2 linked regions of the Homo sapiens genome follow. The main gene of each other region encodes a partner of the protein of the gene in region 2 in a complex. Each region holds a gene or a part of one and is shown on either strand. Other genes may lie near its edges.

The links.
Region 1: POLR3F (region 2) and POLR3C share a complex: the UniProt entries of both Homo sapiens proteins name them as parts of the RNA polymerase III complex.

What each region holds. Positions count from the first base shown.
Region 1 is NC_000001.11:145,826,974-145,836,609, reverse strand, and holds part of POLR3C (DNA-directed RNA polymerase III subunit RPC3), read right to left. Parts: coding exon 9,605-9,636; intron 7,862-9,604; coding exon 7,773-7,861; intron 3,351-7,772; coding exon 3,246-3,350; intron 3,137-3,245; exon of another isoform or gene 3,121-3,136; coding exon 3,028-3,120; intron 117-3,027; coding exon 36-116; intron 1-35. UniProt on the Homo sapiens protein: DNA-dependent RNA polymerase catalyzes the transcription of DNA into RNA using the four ribonucleoside triphosphates as substrates.
Region 2 is NC_000020.11:18,469,664-18,477,461, reverse strand, and holds part of POLR3F (DNA-directed RNA polymerase III subunit RPC6), read right to left. Parts: intron 6,848-7,798; exon of another isoform or gene 6,771-6,847; intron 6,159-6,770; exon of another isoform or gene 6,097-6,158; intron 4,621-6,096; coding exon 4,553-4,620; intron 4,072-4,552; coding exon 4,004-4,071; intron 2,388-4,003; coding exon 2,275-2,387; intron 1-2,274. UniProt on the Homo sapiens protein: DNA-dependent RNA polymerase catalyzes the transcription of DNA into RNA using the four ribonucleoside triphosphates as substrates.

The sequences.
Region 1 (9,636 bases), on a different chromosome or scaffold from region 2:
TAAAGAAAAAAGAAAAAAAGCAAAAACAGACTTACTGGATCATCTGCCAGCAGAGTGAGATACTGATCAAGAACTTGCTTAGAGATGTTATAGCCAACAGGTAGGGATCTGAAGATCTATGGAGCAAAGGACACTTAAAATGGGTTTGGGAACTTAGAACTCCTGACCTTACTGAAATAAAGATGTTTTAGGCCGGGCACAGTGGCTAAGGCCTGTAATCCGAACACTTTGGGAGGCTGAGGCAGGTGGATCACTTTGGGTCAAGAGTTGGAGACCAGCCTGACCAATATGGTGAAACCCCGTCTCTAGTAAAAATACAGAATTAGCTGGACGTGGTGGCGCATGCCTGTAATCCCAGCTATTTGGGAGGCTGAGGCAGGAGAACTGCTTGAACCTGGGAGGCAGAGGTTGCAGTGAGCCGAGATTGCGCCAATGGACTCCAGCCTGGGCTACAAGGGCGAAACTCCGTCTCAAAAAAAAAAAAAAAAAAGTTTTAATTTTAGTTACCACAAAACTGTCCAAAAATATTCACAGCAGGATTGTTTGTAAGAGTAAAAAACTAGAAACACCCAAATGACCAGTACCGAGTACACTAAAATAAAATATAGCACGGCCATTAAGTGGAATATGATACAGTCATTATGAAGAGTGAGACAAATCTACAGAAACTAACATGAAAGGAAGTTTTACATACACTGTCATATAAAAAATCAAGTTATAGAACAGTATGACTAGGTTGGGTGTGGTGGATCACGACTTTGTAATGCCAGCACTTTGAGAGGCTGAGGTGGGAGGATCACTTGATGTCAGGAGTTCGAGACCAGCCTGGCCAACACAGTGAAACCCTGTCTCTACTAAAAATACAAAAATTAGCCTGGCGTGGTGGCATGTGCCTGTGATCTCAGCTACTCGGAAGGATGAGCAGGAGAATGCCTTGAACCCAGGAGGCGGAGGTTGCAGTGAGCTGAGATTGCGCTACTGCACTCCAGCCTGGGTGAAAGAGTACAAGACTCTGTCACAAAAAAACAAAAACAAACAAACAAAACCCAACCAAAAAGCCATATGAATAGTCCCATTTTGGGGTTAAAAAATACATATACCCACATATATGTTAGAGTATGCAAGGTCTGAATAAAGATATATACCAAACTTTTTTTTTTTTTTTGAGACAGAGTCTCACTCTGTTTCCCAGGCTAGAGTGCAGTGGTGCGATCTCAGCTCACTGCAACCTCCCATTCCCGGGTTCAAGCGATTCTCCTGCCTCAGCCTCCCAAGTAGCTGGGATTACAGGCGCCCATCACCATGCCTGGCTAATTTCTGTAATTTTAGTAGAGATGAGGTTTCACCATGTTGGACTATGCTGGTCTTGAACTCCTCAGGTGATCTGCCTGCCTCGGCCACCCAAAGTACTGGGATTACGGGTGTGAGCTGCTGCGTCCGGCCTTTTTTTTTTTTTTTTTTTTTTGAAATAGGGTTTTGCTCTGTTGTTTAAGCTGGAGTGCAGTGGCATGATCATAGTTGACTGCAACCTCAACTCTTGGGCTCAAGCAATCCTCCTGCCTCAGCCTCTCGAATAGCTGTGACTACAGGCATATGGCACCACACCCAACTAATTTTTTAAAAAAATTTTTTGTAGAGACGGGGGTCTTGTCATGTTGCCCAGGTTGGTCTTCAACTCCTGGCCTCAAGGGATCCTTCTGCCTCAACCTCCCAAAGTTCTAGGATTACAAGTGTGAGTCACTGCACCTGGCCATAGAACTTTAAAATAAACAATATAAAAATATAGGAATATTTAAACACAGTCATGCACCATATAACATTTTAGTCAACAACGGACCGTGTGCAGCTGTGGTCCCATATTATACTGGAGCTGAAAAATTCCTACTGCTTTGTGATGTCATAGCTGTTGTAACATCATAGCACAATGCCGTTGTGAAACACATTACTCACATGTGTGGTGAGGCTGGAGTGCAGTGGTATGATCTTGGCTCACTGCAACCTCTGCCTCCTGGGTTCAAGCAATTCTCCTGCCTCAGCCTCCCGAGTAGCTGGGACCACAGGCGCATGCCACCATGCCCGGCTAATTTTTTTTTTTTTTTTTGTATTTTAGTAGATGGGTTTCACCATGTTGCCCAGGCTGGTCTCAAACGCCTGAGCTCAGGCAACCCACCAGCCTGGGCCTCCCAAAGTGCTAGGATTACAGGCGTGAGCCACCCCGCTCAGCCTGTTACTGGTTTTTAATAAATACAGTGTAGCCTGAGCGTGTAGACCATCACATTCACATTAATCTGCCATTCATTCACTAACTCCCACAGGGCAACTTTTAGTCCTGAAAGCTCCATTCATGTTAAGTGCACTAAACAGGTGTGGTTTTTAATTTTTCATACCATATTTTTACTGTACCTTTTCTGTGATTAGATGTTTAGATACACAGATGCTACTGCGTTACAACTGCCTACAGTATTCAGTACAGTAACATGCTGTACAGGTTTACAGCCTAGAAGCCATAGGCTATCCCGTTCAGTCTAGGTGTGCTGTAGGGCTACACCATCTAGGTTTGTGTTAAGTACACCCTATGATGTTCACACAATGATGAAATCACCTAACGACACATTTCTCAGAATGTATCCCTGCTGTTAAGTGATGCATGACTGTATTACTATGAAAGTAATATAAATAACACATATTGGATATATTAAATATCGATATTTTAAGTACAGGGGGTCAAATAATGTCCTGAATGCCAAGGCTCTCAGAGTCCAAATTGTGGATTCTTAAAATAATTAGGAATAGGCTGTACTTGACGAATAGATACTTTGACTAAGTGAATAGTGTAGATTTTTAAAAGCTGGATCCTAAGAGACCAAACATTTCAGTGCTCATCACTTGAAGATAATCCCTGCTCCACATCAAATGCCCTTCTCTTTCAAGGCTCAGACCTCAACCCAAACTCAGGATCTGTGTATAATAAACGTTGATAACACCCAAGAATCTGTCAGAAAGTTAGTGCAAGAACATGAAACTCACCTCATTGGAAGACAATGGCTGGGTGAAGGGAGCACTAGAGGAAGTGGTAATCTCACTCATTCGGAGCATGGTTCGCACAATCTCGCTGCTTGTCTGTTTGAAAAGTAAACTAGAATTCAGAAATCACAGTGCTGCCCCTGGCTCTATGTGCCAATGGCCATATCTGACAAATAAGTAAATGTCCCTGATGACCAATGACAGACCCACTTAGGTATTACCTGGTCCATCCTGTTAGCAACTGCGCTCACAATGGCTTGGTCACGGAAGTGTTGGTGGAATCTGTCAAGGTTGGCCTGCCAATAAATCCCATCATCTGGAATGGGCTGAGGAAAAGATTTAGAGAAACATTTAGCTATAGTGTAAAGTTTTCTGGTGAGGAGCTTGGATTTAATGGTTCACCATTTCTTTTCCTACACAGTAACAATTACATTGGTTGGAAAAAAATCATTCAGTCATGTAGACTGGTGTCTAGACAAATTCCGACTTCAAACAGGTTTTCTAAGCTCATCTCCAATCTTTCTCTCCCTATTTTATTATTTAACATTTATTTTAATTTTTTTCTGAGACGGAGTTTTGCTCGTCACCCAGGCTGGAGTGCAGTGGCATGATCTCGGCTCACTGCAACCTCTGCCTCTCGGGTTCAAGTGATTCTCCTGTCTCAGCCTACTGAGTAGTTGGGATTACAGGCAACCACCACTGCGCTAGGCTAATTTTTGTATTTTTAGTAGAGTTGGGGTTTTACAATGTTGGCCAGGCTGGTCTCGAACTCCTGACCTCAGGTGATCTGCCTGCCTCGGACTCCAAGTGCTGGGATTATAGGTGTGAGCCACCACATCCGGCCTTTCTCTCTCTATTTTAACTCTTCTCCATTACTTTCAAGTCTCCAACTTGACCCTTCTTCCTTCTCACTCTCGGCAGATGACTTTGCCTCTCATTTCACAGAGAAAATAGAAGACACTAGGCCAGAACTCACTCAGCTCTGTGCACATCCTCACCACATTTCTTTTTTGTTCTTGATTCATATTTTCACTCACTTTTATCACAGCTGAAAAATGCTCCTTTTACCTAAGGTTAATGCCCATATTGGTATTCCAAATCTTACTCTCTCATTCATTCTTGGGGATCCAGCTCTATTTTACCCTGTCCTCTAACATCTTCAGGCTTTCCTTCTCTACCGCCTTCTTATCAGCCTTTACCCTGTCCAAGTCTCTTTCTACTCTAGAATTCTCTTTCAACCCTATGCCTTCTCTTCTTTTCCTTAGTGTCACAGCCAAGCTTCTCAAACAGTTGGCCATCTCAGTTGTATCTCTACCTAGATTTACGCAACCCATTTCCACTATTGTACTGAAATGTCAATTGTCACTCGCATTCCAGTGAAATTCCACAACTGTCCTTAAGGATTCTATGTTGTTAAGTTCAAATAATAATTTCCACTTCTGATCTTATTTAACCTTTTGGAAGCATATGACATGGTTGGACATTTTTTCCTTCTTAAAACTTTATGTGGCTCCTTGGTTTTATGACACCATTTTTTTTTTCCTTTTAAAGACAGGGTCTTTGTCACCCAGGCTGGAGTGCAGTGGTGTGATTGTAGCTCACTGCAGCCTTGACCTCCCTGGGCTCAGGTGATCCTCTCATCTCAGCCTCCCAAGCAGCTGGGACCACAGGTGCGTGCCACCACGCTTGGGTAATTTTTGTATTTTTCTGTAGAGACGGTCTCACCATGTTGCTCAGGATGGTCTCAAATTCCTAGGCTCAAGCGATCTGCCCGCCTTGGCCTTCCAAAGTGTTAGGATTACAAGTGTGAGCCACTGGGCCTGGCCGACACCATTTTTTCTTGGCGTTACTTTGAACCTTTCTGGCTACCTTTCCTCAGTATCCACAGATTCCTCTTTCAGATCCCAACTGTAATCCTGGTGTTTTGTCAGGGTTCTGTCCATACCTTTCCTTTCTTTTTACTCTACATGCTCTACTTGGGTAATTTTATCTGCTCTCCAGGCTTCAACTATTGATGCATTTCCAAATCTGTTACTCTATCCTAGAACTCTCTCTTTTTTTTTTTTTTTTTGAGATGGAGTTTTGCTCTTTCGCCCAGGCTGGAGTGAAGTGGCACAATCTCCGCTCACTGCAACCTCTGCCCCCCAGGTTCAAGCGATTCTCCTGCCTCAGCTTCCCAAGTAGCTGGGATTACAGGCCTGCGCCACCATGCATGGCTAATTTTTGTATTTTTAGTAGAGACGGGGTTTCGCCATCTTGGCCAGGCTGGTCTCGAACTCCTGACCTCAGGTGATCCACCTGCCTCTGCCTCCCAAAGTGCTAGGATTACAGGCATTACCGCACCCGGCCTATCCTGGAACTCTCTATTATGCTCCAGATGCATAGACTCAGCTGCCTATTTGACACTTCCATTTGTTCCCCAAACTGTTCTGTTTTGTAAGTTTTCAGGTAACTACACTATAACCAACCCAATTTTTTTTTTTTTTTGAGACAGGGTCTTGCTCTGTTGCCCAGGCTGTAGTGCAGTGGCACCATCATGGCTCACTGAAGCCTTGACTTCCTGGGCTCAAGTGATCCTCCCACCTCAGCCCCTGAGTAGCTGGGACTACAAACATGTGCCACCAGGTCTGGTGTTTTTTTTTTTGGTACAGATGGGGTCTCACTATGTTGTCCAGGCTGGTCTCAAACTCCTGGGCTCAAGTGATTCTTCTACGTCAGCCTCCCAAAATGCTGGGATTACAGGCACGAGCCACTGTGCCTAGACAACCCAATTTCTTTTTTTTTTTTGAGATGGAGTCTTGCTCTGTCACCAAGGATGGAGTGCAGTGGCGTGATCTCAGCTCACTGCAACCCCTGCCTCCCAGGTTCAGGCCATTATCCTGCCGCAGCCTCCCAAGTAGCTGTAATTACAGGCACCTACCACCATGGCCGGTTAATTTTTGTATTTTTAGTAGAGACGGGGTTTCACCATGTTGACCAGGCTCATCTCGAACTCTGACCTCAGGTGATCCACCTACCTCGGCCTCCCAAAGTGCTGGGATTACAGGTGTGAGCCACTGTGCTTGGCCAGCCAACCCGATTTCTTAAGCTACAAACTTGGGTATCACCCCTAGTCCCTTGCTCTCCATAATCTACCACCCCATTACCAAGTTCTATCTATTCTTTATATTTATCAGATGTCTACTTTTCTTTCTCCTATCATTACCTTATTTCAGACTCTAAATCTTGGCCCATCTGGATTACTACAATAGCCTCCTAACTGGGTTTTTTTTTTTCCCTTTAAAACATAGCAGACACTATAAAAGGAGTAACTGGGTTTTCTCCTTCTAATTTTGTTTTGCATCATTCTTCCCATTTCTTAGAGTAGTGCTTTTTTTTTTTTTAAACTGTTTTGGGTCACAGTTCCTTTGAAGAATGTAATGAAAGGTACGGAGAGCTTCACTGAAAAATGCACGTAAGTATAACTGGACTCTCTGAAATCCATCCATGGAGTAGAACAAGTTAGGAACTGCTGTGCTATAATAATCTTTCTAAAATATAAATCCAGTCACTTCATTTCCCTGCTTAAAATCCATCAATGGCTCTCCTTTGCCTTCAGGATAAAGCCCAAACCTCTTAGACAAACATGTACACAAATAATAAATAATTCCAGTTATAAATATAAATGCTGTGAAGTATATGAAATGAGAAATGTGGTAGGAACTAGTGTAGGAGTGGGCAATGGTGCTTGAAGTCTATGAAAACAGCATTTAAGATAGAAATGATAAAAACAGAGACCACTACATGAAGATCTGGGGACAAACATTTGAAGCCGGAGCCAAAGTCTAAAGACCAGAAAGAGTTTGACATGTTTAAGAGATAAAGTCAGTAGAGGGAACACAGTGAGTAAGATGGAGACGGGGCAGAGGTGAGGTTGAAGAGCCCTGTCTCCAGCAGATCATACGAAGACCTAGATCACGTAAGGCTTCCTAGCCCGTACCTTGGATTTCTTCTAAAAGTAAAGGAAAGCTATTAAAGGAGTCTAATCAGTGGATGTGTTGTTTTGTTTTGAACAACTTAGAAAGTCATTTTGGCTACTAAGTAGGTAAGAATGCAGCTAGGGAGACCATTAACGAAAGCGTTTGCAAAGAGTTGAGAGATGGCAGTGAAAAGATGAGAAATGGTTGGATTTGAGGTAATTTTGGAAACTGGGCTGATATGTTTTACTGTGAGATTAGAGGGTTCCAAGGATTTTGGCTTAAGCAGAAATGGTGGTGTCCTAGGCGGCTGGCCTACGTGGTAGTGTCTTTTACTAAGATGAGGAAGTTTATGAGGGAGCAAGATATTTGGGAGGAGGAATCAATTATTCTGTTTTGGCCACACTAAATTTGAGATGCTTACTGACATCTTTATAGGTACGCTAAGAAGGCATTTGAATATGAGTTCAGGCCTATGTATAGTTTTTAGACCCATTTTTCATCACTGGCCCCTGTAGGTCTTTAGGTTCTCGCCATATTGAGCAACCTAAACTTTTTCTAGGCCCCTTTTTACATAAGCTGTTACCTCTGTTCAATGAAAGAATTAAGTTAAGGCTCAGAAGGGAGACAGTAATGGTTCATTCTTTGTTAGTCTATTCCTAATATTTAATGAGGTTCATAATCCTACTGCTTCTTAGCTCAGGAAGCTTTAAGCTCTCTTGGGGCTTGTTATCTGAGTGCTCTTTCTGGCCTGCTTCAGGGTGAGGACTTCTAATCAAGAAGCCCCATTACCTCCTTGTTATCTGTAGTATATTTTGGTCTCTTGGCCTTGGGCTCCCCAGCAGCATCTTCATCAGATGATCTCCTCCTTTTACCTTTCCCTGCCAAACAAACAATTAAACACTTAGACTATATCTCATATGATGACAGGAAATGACCAAACATGAGAGCAGGTGTCTTTCATTCCAAAGACATCTGTAGCTGCCTCTAGATCAGAGTTGCTTAGGGGGCTGAAGAGCTATAAGAAACTCAAGTAACTGATGAAATAATCTGAAACTCAACATGTTCAAAAAGAGTCTTATAGTCTTTCTCCTCCAATGCTCTCTTTCATGGCCAGTGATATCATCCTCCCACATGTGCAAGTCAGACACACAGATGTCACTCTTAGTACTTGTTTCCTTCACCCTCTCTCTTTCATTTTCCACCAGTCTGTCAACATTTACCTTTGCCCCATTCTCCCATCCTTTCTGTAGACAAAAAATCTTTTGAAAGTGCAAATTAGATCATGTCATTTCCTTAAAAATCCTTCAGTGGTCTTCCTTTGCTCTTAGCATAAAGAACAGATGCTCTATAAGGTCTTACTTGATTCAGCCCCTGCCTGTCTCCCATCCAAGTACTAAGCAGGTTGATCCTGATTAGCTTCTGAGATCAGACCCCTGCCTAGCTATGTCTCTAACCTTACCTCATGCCTCTCTTGCTTTGCTTACAATGCTTTAGCTATACTGACATTCTTTCATTTCCTCAAATGCTATTTTTTTACTACATACTATTCCCTCTGCCAAAAATGCTTTTCCTGTTACCTCACTGTTAGCTTCTACTTCAAATCTTAGCTCAAATGCCACCTTCTCAAAGAAACATGAGGCCTAAACTCCCAGATGAATCCCGTCTCTCGTTATATATTTTCTTTTCTTTTTTTTTTCCCGAGACAGAGTCTCACTCTGTCACCCAGGCTGGAGTACAGTGGTGCAATCTTGGCTCACTGCAATCGCTGTCTCCTGGGTTCAAGCAATTCTCCTGCCCCAGCCTCCCGAGTAGCTGGGATTACAGGCGTATGCCACCATACCTGGCTATTTTTTTTTTTTTTTTTTTTTGAGACGGAGTCTGGCTCTGTTGCCCAGGCTGGAGTGCAGTGGCACGATCTCGGCTCACTGCAACCTCCGCTTCCCGGGTTCATGCTATTTTCCTGCCTCAGCCTCCCAAGTAGCTGGGACTACAGATGCCCGCCACCACACCCAGCTAATTTTTTGTATTTTTAGTATAGACGGGGTTTCCCGGTATTAGCCAGGATGGTCTCGATCTCCTGACCTCGTGATCCGCCCACCTTGGCCTCCCAAAGTGCTGGGATTACAGGCGTGAACCACCATGCCCGGCTACCTGGCTAATTTTTATAATTTTAGTAGAGATGGGGTTTCAACATGTTGCCCAGGCTGGTCTCGAACTCCTGGCCTCATGCAATTCGCCTGCCTCAGTCTCCCAAAGTCTCCATTATATATTTTCATAACACCTCATACTTTTCCTTCATGGCACTTATTACAGTTTAATTATATACTGATGTGATTTTCTGATTAATGCATGTCTCATAATACTATGACAGTTCCTTCATAGGAATATTTCCTTCATAGTACTTATCACCGTTTAATGATATATCGATGTGATTTTCCGATTAATGTATGTCTCCTATACTAAAGCCCCATGGCAGAGACCATGATTTTTTCATTGTTATACACCACGATGTCTGGCACATAGCAAATACTTGGTAAATACAATCACATTTCATACACTTGACAATCAAGAAGAATCCACAATTAAGGCAAGTCACAGTTCCAGGGGTTAAAATTCCTTACCTATCAAGCTGAGTTTAGGAACCAGGTACATG
Region 2 (7,798 bases):
AATCAGTTGGGTAAATACTTAAGAGCTTGACCTTTGGACAATGTGGTAAGACTCTGTTTAGTTTTGTAAAAACTGCCCAGTTTTTTAACAAAAGGACTGAAAATTTTGCATTCTTAGCAATGTATGAGTGTTCATCTTGGTCTGTATCTTGTCAGCATATGGTATTACCAATTTTTAGATTTTAGCTATTCTAATAGGTGTGTAGTGGTATCTCACTATACTAAATTTTATTTTAATTTGCAGTTCTCTAATGAAAAATAATGTAGAGCATCTTTTCATATGCTTATCTGCCATCTGTATGTCTTCTTTGGTGAGGTTCAGATCTTTTGCTCATTTTTAGTTGGATTATTTGTTTTCATTGTGTGTTTTTTTTTTTTTTTCTTTTTTTGAGATGGAGTTTCGCTTTTGTTGCCCAGGCTGGAGTACAATGGTGCAATCTTGCTCACTGCAACCTCTGCCTCCTGGGTTCAAGCAATTCTCCTGCCTCAGCCTCCCAAGTAGCTGGGATTACAGACATGTGCCACCACGCCTGGATAATTTTGTATTTTTAGTAGAGACAGGGTTTCACCATGTTGGTGAGGCTAGACTTGAACTCCTGACCTCAGGTGATCCACCCGCCTTGGCCTCCCAAAGTGTTGTTTTCTTATTGCTGAATTTTAGGAGTTCTTTGTATATTTTGGAGACAAGTCCTTTATCAAATATGTGATTTGCAAATATCTTTTAGTATGTAACTTGTCTTTTCATTCTCTTAATGTGTCTTGCAAAGCAGAGGTTTTCAAAAAATTTTGATAAACTCCAACTTATTAACATTTTCTTTCATAGACTACTATTGGAGTTATAGTCCAAGAATTCATTAACAAAGCCAAGGTCATGTAGATTTTCTATGTTTTCTTCAAAAAGTTTTATAGTTTTGCACTTTACACTGAGATCTAAGATTATTTTAACCCTTAAAAGGACACAGAAGTTCACCAACGGATGAATGAACAAAAGGTGATATACATCTATACAATGGAATTTTAATTGGCAATAAGAAGGAATAAAGCACAATATGGATAAATCTTGAAAACATCATGCTAAGTCAAAGTAGTCATACATAAAAGACTACATATTCTATTATTCCATTTATAGGAACTGTCCAGAATAGGCAAATCTATAATAAAGGCAGAAAATAAATTATTCGTTTTTAGGGCCTATGGAAAGAGAGGCTGGGAAACAAATACTAGTGGCCACATTTGGGGGTGATGAAAATGTTCTAAAATTAGAACAGCGGTGATGGTTGCACAACTCTTAGCTTATAGTAAAAACCAGTGACTGTAAATCCAAAGATTTTACACTTTAAAAGGTTGAATGAATTCTGTAGTATGAATGATGAATTATATTTCAGCAGAGCTGTTATTAAACATAAAGATGTAGAAGGAGGACTGACAAAATGAGGCTACATGATAGGGTTTTATTATATGATTTTTTCTACCTTTGTATATATTTGAAATTATCCATTAAACAATGTGGAAGGGAAATGCTATTCTGATAAATAAAATCACTAATAAGCATCAAATTCTTATAAGTGATGTTATAATTCTTATAATTCTTGTTTTATTCAAAAATAAAAACTTGAAGCAACATATGTAAGCGGATATTTGAGGAAAGGTCTACTCACTGCCACAGACCTAACAGCTCTGAAATTATAAAATTTGAATTATAGCTGTAATTCTTATGAAATGTGTATTGAAGCAAACTTTATTCTAGGGGAATCTCAGTTCCTCTGATGTCTAAATCAGTGAGGTCAGGGGCAGATGTCCCCGAGGGAGCCAGCTCTGGAGCAGGGGTGGGGCAGGATGAGGAGCAGGAAAAACACACGTGTACTAGAAGAGAAGCTCCACCAAGGCAGGGATCTTTCTACGACTTGTTCATTAATGTATCCCAAGCACTCAAAACAGTGTCTGGCACACAGCAAACACTCTTTGTTGAATGAGAAAGCTAATATGTCGGGATAAAGTAAATTATCTTACACACCACAAAATCTAGGAAAAATGTTCACAGTTCCAAAGATTCTTCACTGAAGACAGTAAAGTAGTTTTAGATTTTTGAGTGGGTGAGTGAGACACCAAGAGCTAACTGTGTAGGGACAAGTCTAAGCAGCATCTCCAAACCAATCCAACATGAGCTAAATTTTTAAGTCTTTTTTGACCAGCTGTTCTAAATCATGACATAACTTCAAGAATAAAAACTTGAAGCAACATATGTAAGTGGGTATCTGAGGAAAGGACTACTCACTGCTACAGACTTAACAGCTTTGATAAGCTTTTTACTTTCCAGATTCTTCAGAATTTTGTTGATTTCTGTTAATGGCAAATTACTTTTATAGCGGATATCTCTGCTCCATATTCCTATAAGAAAGTAAAGTAAAATAAGTTGAACTCTGGTTTTCATGGATTTTTAATGTTATTCCTCTAACTTGTGTCTCATTCCAAAGCTAGCAGTATAAAGCTAACAGTAAAGAATGCTGGCTAAAGTAGCAAAAGTATGCTAAACAATAAATAAGTATAATGCTTTGTAAGACTTATTATAATGATTTATAATTTCTAACTAGAAATTTCTTGGAATCCCAGTGTGGCAAACTTTTAAAAAACTTATGGAAAGGGCTGGGCATGGTGGCTCATGCCTGTAATCCCAGCACTTAGGGAGGCCGAGGCAGGTGGGTCACCTGAGCTCAGGAGTTTGAGACCAGCCTGGCCAACATGGTGAAACTCTGTCCCTACTAAAAATACAAAAATAATTAGCCGGGCCTGATGGCATGCACCTGTAGTCCTAGCTACTCGGGAGGCTGAGGCATGAGACTCGTTTGAACCCGGGAGGCGGAGGTTGCACTGAGCCGAGATCACACCATTGCACTCCAGCCTGGGCAACAGAGCAAGACTCCATCTCAAAAAAAAGAAAAAAAAAATTATGAAAACGACGTTTTTATAATGGAAGGAAAAATCATGGATGCAATGGAATTTTATCATCTGTACCCTTATCTCTGTTTTCTGATACTTTCATTTTAGATTGTAAATGTGAAATACAAACTTAAATTTGGGTCAAGGTCAACTGCCATCCTCAAGTGGGACAAAAACACTCTTTAGATGAGTGTCTGCATGCATGTAATCCATTATTTATACAACATTGTATTTGTGAGATGGAAAAGGAAGCCTAGGGTTCTTATGGCTGCTAAAAGCCCTGTGTGAGAAGCAATGATTTCTTTTTCAAAGAAGGAAATAAGTGTTATATATGGAAAGGGAATGTATGTAAATATTTTGCTTTATTTTCTTCCCAATGTAATGGCATATGAGATAGGAAGATTAAAAAAATATGCAGAATGGCTTTCTCATAGGACTATTTTTAAAAATGTTAATTTTAATAAATATAAGAATTAGTTATGTAATTTCAGATTACATCTCAATTTTTCCAGCTAATATCAATGACTCAAATAGATCCCAAATTATTGTAACTTAGGATTGCAATTTAGATACAGTTCTTCAAGCGGGTAGAAGAGAAACTATAGCTGCGGAGGGACATCTGTTAAGACACTGCTACACCACACCAGCTTTCCTTTTGGTCCTTGCAAAAACGAGAGGTGTCAGCATCCACAATTTATAGATAAGATAAAGAAACTGAAGCTCACAAAGTTTAAGTAACTTGTCCATGGTCATATAGCTAGAAGGTACAGATTTAAAAAAAAAACTTAAATTTTATTTATTTTGAATAGATAATACATTCATGTGACTCAGAATTCAGACGTCTTTTTCCATCCCTGGACACAGCCCTTTAGTTCTTGTCTCTTTCAAGGCAACAACGGCCTTACTCTTGGGTGTCCTTCAAGCACATGCATGTTATATTTGTATGTTCTATTACCTTCCTCAGTATACTCTGTCCACTGAGTTCTACCCTGGGAAGCTGAGATCTGGGTCCCTATATCTAGTTCCAAAGACAATGTTTTTTTCTGCTTCATCTTTCACATGCTTACCTTTATTTCCTGCATCCTCTATGATTTGATATACTAGTTTTTCTTGGTTATCGGATCCCTTCATTTTACTGTAGTGGAATAAAGTAAAATTAGTAAGGTAAGGACTATAGGATAATCTAATAATCTACATCACTACTTAAACAAAATTAGCAGACAAGGTCACCACAGTGACATATTTACCAAAAGAAAGGCTTACCTTAAATAGAATGAGACAGAGCTGTGTGTACCAACATGAAAAGATGTCCAAGATACAGTAAGTGAAAAAAACAAATTGCAAAACAGAATGGATAGCATGATTCCATTTTTGTTAAAAAAAAAAGAGAAAGATTATATATAAATATATAATCATCTATGTGTATTTATATATAGCTAGAAGAAAGGATATACACTAAATTATTAAGAGCAGTTACCTCTGGGAAATGGAATATATCATAGGAGGCAGGGATGATACACAGGACAGGTTTATGTAATTTTGTATTAGCTTTATTCCCAACACATACGTTTGCAAATAATAAACATTTTCTTAAAATTAAAAAAACAAGTACTTACCCAGCATTCTGAGAGTCCTTTATTCTATATAAAAGGCCCGTATTGCTCCTTAAGAGATCCAACTGACCCTAGTTTTTAAGACAGTAGAAAACAGGAGTCAGTTATTTTGGAGATATGTTAAATCAAATGACAAATGTTGATGCATTCTTTAACATTCTTAATTTTTCAAAACCTGCTCTTTAATCTCAAAATTTTTCAAAATATCACTAACAATTTCCTGTAGGCTAGATCTTGGCTTGGTTATATGATCAATGCATAAAGAATTTTTAAAAAGCAGCTTGAGAATAACAATCTATATTAAAAATCAATATAAATCCAAATTACATATATAAAATAAAAATATAATTTATATAAATAAAAAGTTGAAATAAAGACTAAATAGGCATATTCTGTTGCACAGTGAAAAATAAAATTTATAAAGTTAATGGCTGGGCGTGGTGGCTCACACCTGTAATCTCAGCACTTTGGGAGGTCAAGGCAGGTGGTCCATTTGAGGTCAAGAGTTTGAGACCAGCCTGGCTAACATGGCGAAAACCTGTCTCTACTAAAAATACAAAAATTAGCCAGGTGCAGTGGCATGCGCCTGTAGTCCCGGCTACATGGAAGGCTGAGCTGAGATCGCACCACTGCACTCCAGCCTGGGCAACAGAGCAAGACTCCATCTTGAAAAGCAAAAAACAAACAAAACAAAAAACAAAAAAAGTTAACAGTGACATTTACTGAAGTCAGCCAATGAATAAAAGGACTAGAGTAGTATTGTTTTTATATAGCAAATCAAAAGTAAAATAAAGTATGTCTGTCATGCTCCTGAATTTCCTTGGGTCCGAACTTAAGAGAACCCAGATAATTATACCACTAGGCTCTGGAAGTACTAGAAAGCCACAGTTGAGAGGGACGCTATTCCCTTGTTTATTTATGTATTTATTTAGAGACAGAGTCTCACTCTGTCACCCAGGCTGGTGTGCCGTGGCACAATCTCGGCTCACTGCAACCTCTGCCTCCCGGGTTCATGCGATTCTCGTGCCTCAGCCTCCCAAGTAGCTAGCATTACAGGTGTATGCCACCATGCCACGCTGATATTTGTATTTTAGTAGAGATAGGGTTAGGCCATGTTGGCCAGGCTGATCTTGAACTCCTGGCCTCTAGTGATCCGCCTACCTCGGCCTCCCAAAGTGCTGGGATTACTGGCAGGAGCCACTGTGCCCAGCCCATTCCCTTGTTTTAAAACAGACACTCATGACTTGGAAATGGATTTACATACTGAATGAACAGTGACACACTCCTGTTCCCTGACCCCACGAAGTGGCAAAGTAGGACTACAAGGCCCAATCCAGAGGCTCTGGTCATTTATCCAGCTTATGAATATTTACTGAATACTTGTACTGTGCCAGGTGTTATGATAGGTGTTTGGGGGAACAACATTAATTCTAAAAGGGAAACACACAGGTGACTTCAATACCCATCTGGTTGGCATTAAGATAGAGGTAAGTAAAGCCACCCTGAACTCCCAGATTGGGTACTCGGAGAACAGGCTGCGGCCCAACCTGGGGGGGTTCAGTGACTTCCTGGAGACAATGGCAGAGTTGAGTCCTAATGCGTTAGTCATCTGTAAAGAATAAGAAGAACCTTCTAAGCAGGGGAACAACATGAGTCCTGTGGCACGAAACAGCATGATGTGGCCAGAAACCAAAAACAATCTGCTCCTCCTGAAACCTAACTTTTGAAGTAGAGTGGTGGAGATGAGGCTGGTGAACAATGCAGGGACTCAGTGTGGGAAACCCAGGAGTTTGAACTTGAATCTCCAGTATAAACAAATTGTAGGTGGTAGAGTGCCTTGGTCAGACCTGCATTTAAGACAGATCAGGGGCCAGGCTCGGTGGCTCATGACTGTAATCCCAAATCAGGCTGGCTTCTCTGAGACAGATGGAGTCATGGAAACCAGTTAAGATGCTACTGCAGCTGTCCAGGTAAAAGCCATGAGCCTGAACATGATGCAGTACCAGGGATAGAAATGGAGGGGGTGTGGACAGCAAATTTAAGAACTGTTTTTAAGAGCTAAAATCAGAAACATTACATGATTTATTAATAATCACTCCCTTTCTTAATATCCTTTGATAGCTCTACTACTGCCTGCATACAACCTATAGCCAATAGGACTCGCAGTGGGTGGGTGGTGGCAGAGGTGGTAAAAGAGAGGTGCTGAAGATGATTTTCAGTCAGAAGGAAAGAGCTGAGAGGGCGATCAGAGGAAGAAAAGAACTTTTTCCACTGCTACAACCTCCCAGAATCCCTTCCTCTGTCTTTCCTAGAGCTGAAGACCTTCACCACAGTGAAATAACTAGAAATCAGCAACATTCCTTTGTCCTTGGGCTAGAACAGGGGTGAGCAATCTGCTCCACAGCTTGTTTTTATAACCAAAGTTTTGTTGGAACATGGCTGTAGCCATTTGTTTATGTATCATCATCCATGGCTGCTTCTTGCTAAAATGACAGTGTAGTTGTGACAGAAATCATATGGCTCACAAAGCCTAAAACATATACTGTCTGGCACTTTATAGAAAAAGTTTGCCAACTCCTGAGCTAGAAAATTGATGGGAAAGGTTTAAGAAAAGATTCATCGGACCCCAAATCTCCACATCCAGAGCCCTTGGAAATCCAACAAGGCTAGTAGACTTAAAAAACAAATCAGTCATTCAGATGAGGCCTTGGCGTAGAACTCTTTAACCTAACTGCTACTAAAGCCAAACTGAAATGCTCTTAGGAAAAGGATGTTTTGGTGATGAGGGAAAGTAAGGGAGATTTAGAGCATCGGCACCACTTGGTGGGTTTTTAGACAGTCTTGCTTGTTTGTTTCTGGACAGATGGAGAATGGCTTCACTGATAAATTCCATTGCAATGTCACTGGGGGCTAAGGCTGCACTTCCTCCCCAAAGCCCAACATTCTTCATTCAACTGGACTCATTCTTGCTTCCTGAAATGCTCAGAGTGACAATGTGGAGAATGAAACCCTGATGACTGGGCTCTGTGACAACTCATAGGAAAATCGGGGGGTGGAATATTTTATGGGAAATGGCCCAACACCAGCAGTAGGAAGCAAACAGAAGGTGAGAACAGACTAGACCTATGTATGGCAGTGGCAATTAATAAATACAACAGTTATACCATAATACATTTATTTCATTTGTCTTATAACGCATAATTATTTCTTCTTTTTTCAATTCAGGTAGTTTGAGCTGTTTCCTGGTTT